2 separate regions of the Homo sapiens genome follow, and region 1 is linked to region 2. The links come from fine-mapping of genetic effects on gene expression. Tissue or cell type: whole blood. Region 2 holds a variant in brackets; the other region holds the start of a gene. Each region is shown on its reference strand, or each on the opposite one.

What was found. PIP is the estimated chance that this variant, and not a neighbour inherited with it, causes the effect. A credible set is the group of variants that fine-mapping cannot tell apart.
Region 1: it holds the start of NR1D1, and the variant in region 2 is the best candidate, but not a certain one, in a credible set for the expression of NR1D1 in whole blood (TOPMed, PIP 0.56).

Annotation. Positions count from the first base shown.
Region 1 is chr17:40,099,201-40,102,221 of GRCh38, forward strand. NR1D1 (nuclear receptor subfamily 1 group D member 1) reads right to left here and starts at 1,389. Exons shown (of 8, transcript NM_021724.5): 1 at 864-1,389. The coding sequence starts at 894. RefSeq lists enhancers at 1-732, 1-635, 636-1,619, 1,085-1,154, 1,635-1,754 and silencers at 1-203, 214-303.
Region 2 is chr2:100,811,232-100,813,731 of GRCh38, forward strand. No RefSeq gene overlaps it. Among named protein-coding and RNA genes, the nearest start is that of NPAS2, 7.7 kb to the right of the region's middle. The variant G/A (reference allele first, on the strand shown) is at 1,081.

The sequences.
Region 1 (3,021 bases), not on the chromosome of region 2:
CCTCCTCGCTTCCCGTCAATCGAGAGCAGTCGCCCCGCCTCCTACCCGCCCTTCCCCGGCCACCAGGTCGTGGGCTGGACCCCGAACGATAGCAGGGCCAGGACAACCTAGGGGAGGAGAGAAGGGAACACGCGTTGCCGGGGCGACCGGGGGGGCGGAGCTCATTATGTAACGAGGCCGGGAGGCAACGACCAATGGGGTGGCAGCCACGGCTTCTGCTGAATGAAAACAAACGCAGCACGTGGGCCCGGCTCTAGAGCCATGTGAGCCCTCCCGGCGGCCGGAGCCCTGTAGGTGCCCTCCCTCGGGCCGGGCACCACGCTCTGGACTCCTCAAGTGTCGCTCCCTCCTGTCACTGAGGATTCCCCAGTGAGATCCGAACGATTCTCCCAGCCCCTCCTTCCCTGAACCCCATCGCGCCACTCTTCTCAGATTCCCTCGCGCCTGCAGGAACTAGAGGAGGGGGAAGACAAGAGGGGAGGGGGTCCGTTTTCTGAGGCCAGGCATACTACAGCTGCAGGTAGTGGACAGATGGGGCCGTTTCGGGGCACTGTTCCAAAGCTCCCAGTCCCCCTAAATTCTTCGCTTCACCACCCGTACCTCCTCTCCATTTCCTCCTGCCCAGGGATTCGAGGCTCAAGGGAGCTTTGGGACTCTGAGGGGTGGTGATGGGGCGTTTCTGAGAGCATTTCCAGCCCGAACAAGCCGCTCTGGAAATCCCACACTAAAGCACCGCAGCACGTTAGCAAATCTCCGGGCCGAGGGACACCCCAGTCCCTTACAAAGTTCCTCTTTTTATAAGGCGTAGATGGAGGTGGGGAGACAGTGACAGGGAAAAGATGATAGTAAAGAAATCTCAGTACCTGTGTTGTTGTTGGAGTCCAGGGTCGTCATGTCTTCACCAGCTGAGAGCGGTCATTCAAACTGGACCTTGACTCAAACTAGAGGTTGCGATCGCCGCTGTTGCCCCCTGGGCACTGGCTAAGGGCGGGGAGTGGACCCCGCGACTCACGATCAGGATCCGAAGCACCCTGCAGCAAGGTCTTGGGGTGGCCGGACTGCAGCCCTGCAGAAGGGTTGGACGTTGAGGCAACGGAGTTCTGCTTTGCATGGGAAGAGCAGAGAGAGTGTGTAGGGGGAATCAGCCTGCAGTAGTTCTGGCTAGAAGGTAGCAAGGAGGGTCGGGTCTCTGCAGTGTACGGGGTGCCTCTGCCTGCCGGCTCCGCAGCGCTGCGGGGTGGCGAATCTGGAGCTCCCGGTGCAAAAGTCCCAGAGGAAGAGAGGTTGCAACCAGGAAGTAAGTAGGTGATGGGGAGAAACGGGGCACCGAGTCGCAAAGAGGCGAGACGTGTGCCCTGCTACGTTCCCTCGGCAGTAATATTTCACTCTGCCAATCTCAGCCGCCTTTTGCCCGAGCCTTTCCCTGGGACAGAGGGCTCTGCGCAGGCGCCAGCAGCCCAGGGTTCCCGGGCCGCACGCGGCACTGGAGCAGGTACCATGTGATCCCAGGGAGCGCCTCGTGCCCCAGTGACACACTTTTCCAACAGCCGGCACGTTGAGCTCTTGCGCGCCTGCGCAACGACAAGACTGTCGGGATTTGTAGTCCACCGACAAAGTGGGCGGACTGCGTGCCTTTCCCCTTTCTGCCTGGCAAAGCGCTTGCCGGGACCTGGGAGGAGCTGAGAGTGGGGTGGGGTGGGGTGCGCTGAAGAGTCAGGGTGGCGTGTTTAGAAAGCCTGTATGGCAGGGGCATGTGAATTTCTGGGGAGGGACTGGCAAGCTTGTTTGCTGTCTGGGAGATCAAAGCTAAGAGGCCCTTTCTGCAAACCTTGCAAACGTGAGGGCTTCACGTGATTGCAGGACTGACCTCGTCCTGAGGTTACTGGTGACCGGGAGAGAGAGAAGCCGGGGAGGGAGATTTCCCTGGAGTCAGGAGCTTAGGCTGCCCTCTGCTTCAGGGCAAAGTCCAGAGAAGGAAAGGAAATGTGACCCCCTTTCCCTTCTACTCGCCTTAGGGAGAACACCTCCAGGGGAAGGAGTTCCCACAGAGGTAGGGATGTCTGTAGGGACTCCCTGTTTGCTTGTATGACACCATTCCACCCACTCCAGTTGACTTTGGGGTGAGTCATTTCCCTTTGTCTGGGAAATAAAAAGGACAACAGAGGGGAACTAATAGTGAAAGTGCTTTGAGGTCCTAAAGTAATGGGGAAGAGGTGAGGCAGGGGGTGGGGGCAGAGTGACACCCCTGCCCCTCGGTGCTGGAGGATAAAATATGAATTCCACAGAAGATTACTACTCAGAGGGGAACATGTAGATCATCTTAAGCCTCCCTCTTTTTACTAGTGGGGAACAGGAAGCTTAGGAGAAGTGACCGACCCAAGGTCAGACGTCCATTGCTAGTTTCATCTGCCCACCCCGAATGGGAAGGTGGGTAGATGTACAAGTGAAATACTGAACAGGGGTTAGAAACAGCCAGCATTGCCGGGTGCTTTGGCTCATGCCTGTAATCCCAGCACTTTGTGAGGCTGAGGTGGGTTGATCACCTGAGGTCAGGAGTTTGAGACCAGCCTGACCAACACGGTGAAACCACGTCTCTACTAAAAATACAAAAATTAGCCGGATGTGGTGGTGGGTGCCTGTAATCCCAGCTAGTCAGGAGGCTGAGGCAGGAGAATCGCTAGAACCCGGGAGGTGGAGGTTGCAGTGAGCCGAGATCGCCATTGCACTCCGGCCTGGGGGATAGAGTGAGACTCTGTCTCCAAAACAAACAAACAAAAAACAGCCAGTATTTCGCTTCAGAGCAGCAACTGTCCCATGAGTAATAACAGATCTCAAGTAGAGGAGATCTATCATGTTAGAGGGCTTGGGTCATGGAGGGGATGGAAGCTTCTTAGGCAGCGAAGGGAGAGGGAGCCTGAGCCACCTGCTGCTCCCGCTAATTCCTCCCCAGTCCCAGTGCTTCTAGAGAGGGTTTTCTTCACATAGGAAGCCCTTCTCCACAGGCAGCTCCTGGGATGGTAT
Region 2 (2,500 bases):
AGTCTATTCAGATCTTTTGCCTATTTTAAAATTAGATTATTTGTCTTTCATTACTGAGTTATAAGAGTTTTATAATTGCAGATACAAGTCCCTTATCGGATACATGCTTTGCAAATATTTTCTCCCACTTTATGGGTTGTCTTTTCACTTTCTAGATAGTATCATCACAAGTTGTCACTTCTGATGAAGTCTAATGTATCTTTTTCTTTGGTTGCTTGTGCTTTTGGTGTTATACAAGAGTCCTTTGCCAATTTTAGAATCCTTTGCCAAATTCAAGGTCATGATGCTTTACCACCTACATTTTCTTCCTGGCGATTTTATCATTTTAACTCTTATATTTATGCAGTTGATCCATTTGAGTTAATTTTTGAACATGATGCAAGGTAGAGATCCAACTTCATTTGTGTCTTGATATCCAGTCCCAGGACTATTTGTTTGTTAGAAAGACTACTCTTGGCTGGGCATGGAGGCTCACGCCTGTAATCCCAGTACTCTGGGAGGCCGAGGCAGGCAGATCACCTGAGGTCAGGAGTTCAAAACCAGCCTGACCAACAAGGTGAAACCCCATCTCTACTAAAACTACAAAAATTAGCCGGGCATAGTGGCGTGTGCCTGTAATTCCAGCTATTAGGGAGGCTGAGGCAGGAGAATTGCTTGAACCTAGGAAGTGGATGTTGCAGCGAGCTGAGATCACACCATTGCACTCCAGCCTGGACAATATGGCATGACTCTGTCTCAAAAAAAAAAAAAAAAAGAAAAGAAAAGAAAAGAAGACAAGACTACTCCTTCCCCATTGAATTGTCTTGGTACTTTTGTCAAAATCAATTGACCATAAATGTAAGGGTGTATTTCTGTGCTCTCATTCTATTACCTTAATGTTTTACACTTGTCATCCATGTCCTATGCCAATTTTTTATTTTTATGTTACAGTACAGACATCTACTTCTTGACTTGGTGACCCAAGTTAGTGTCATTTCCCTTAGACTACCAGCTCCAGTGAGTTCAAACAATGCCTACAGAACTTGCTTTGCACTGTGGCAGGCACAGCCCCTGCAGTTCATAAATCTGCTGTACATTACA[G/A]GGGGAGTTACATTACAGGGAGTTACAGGATGCCTGTAACTCAGTGTCCCACCCTGCCGGCTTCCGCTTATCTGACAGCCACATCAAGCCAACTGGTTCATCACACACCCTGAAGTCAGAAGGTTGTGGCTCAACACTATGTTTTAGACTCGACCAAACTGTACTCTGATGAGGAGCTAATGAGAAAGAGATCAACGATAGGATGATCATATGTTAAAGTACTCATGTCCATGGAGCAGGGAGGGAGGGAGAGACAGTGAGAGCAAGAGAGAGAAGAAATGACCAGGAGACACTGAGAGAAAGGGAAGGGACCAAGGAATTGAGAAACGGGGAGAAGAATTGAGGAAGGCTTATTTAAAATTCTTATCAATCACTTGACTAAGTATCCCCTCAAGATAGCATAACTGTAGGCTGCTCAAAGCACAGGTGTGGGTGGCAGAGAGGCCCACGTGTCCAACCTGGCTCTGCTCCCTGCCAGCCATGTTGCCTTATGCAAGTAACTCCACATCTCTAGGCCTCCATTCCATCATCTGTCAAATCGGATAATAAGAAAATTGCCCTCAGGGGGTAGGCGTGAAGATTAAATAAGTTAATGCTCTTAGCCCAGGGCCTGGCACAGGAAGATCAATACAATTAGTGCAAACCACAGGAGAGTTGAATAACCCCCTACTAGCCTCATCACCAACTGTATAAACCAGTGGACCTCGAATGAACTTCATGTGCATTGGAATCTCCAGAAAGGTTGTTTGACAGAGATTGCTGGGCTGGCACCCCAGGGTTTCAGGTTCCGCAGGTCTGGGGTAGTGCTTCTAAATTTGCATTTCTAACAAGTTCACAGGTGACACTGATGCTGTTCTTCCAAAGAACATACTTTGAAGACCACTACTCTGAATTATGAAGGGTCAGGAAAACAAAATGCCACTTATTGGCATTTTAAATTCTCAAGTGAAAAGTCTTTAAATAAAAGCCCTAATAACTGATCCCGGATATAGGCACCCTGAACCATCTGGAACTCACTAATAGAAAGAAAAGGTGACTTTAATTACCAATTTCTGGAATGTAAAAATACAATCAAGCCTAGTTGCCACGATAAAAGTGTCCTTTAAAGCCTTTATTTGACTGGAAAGGAAGAAATCTGAAGCAACATGTAATAGCACATGTGCATTAACAACATCAAATGAGGTTGTCTTTACCATGGAATCGTGTTCACTGTCCACACAAGTGCTCAACTGGGGCCATTGAGAAAAGCTTTTTTCTCACCAAAATCTTGCAACAAAACATACTAATAAAACAATGCTTACCCATACAGGAAATGCGTTGTCTGCTGTCTACTTGGGAGGGGCTATAAATAGCTCCTTGGAGAACATTGTTCTATAATTAGCTTTCACTTCAAGTGAACTATGTGTAATGAATTTCATAT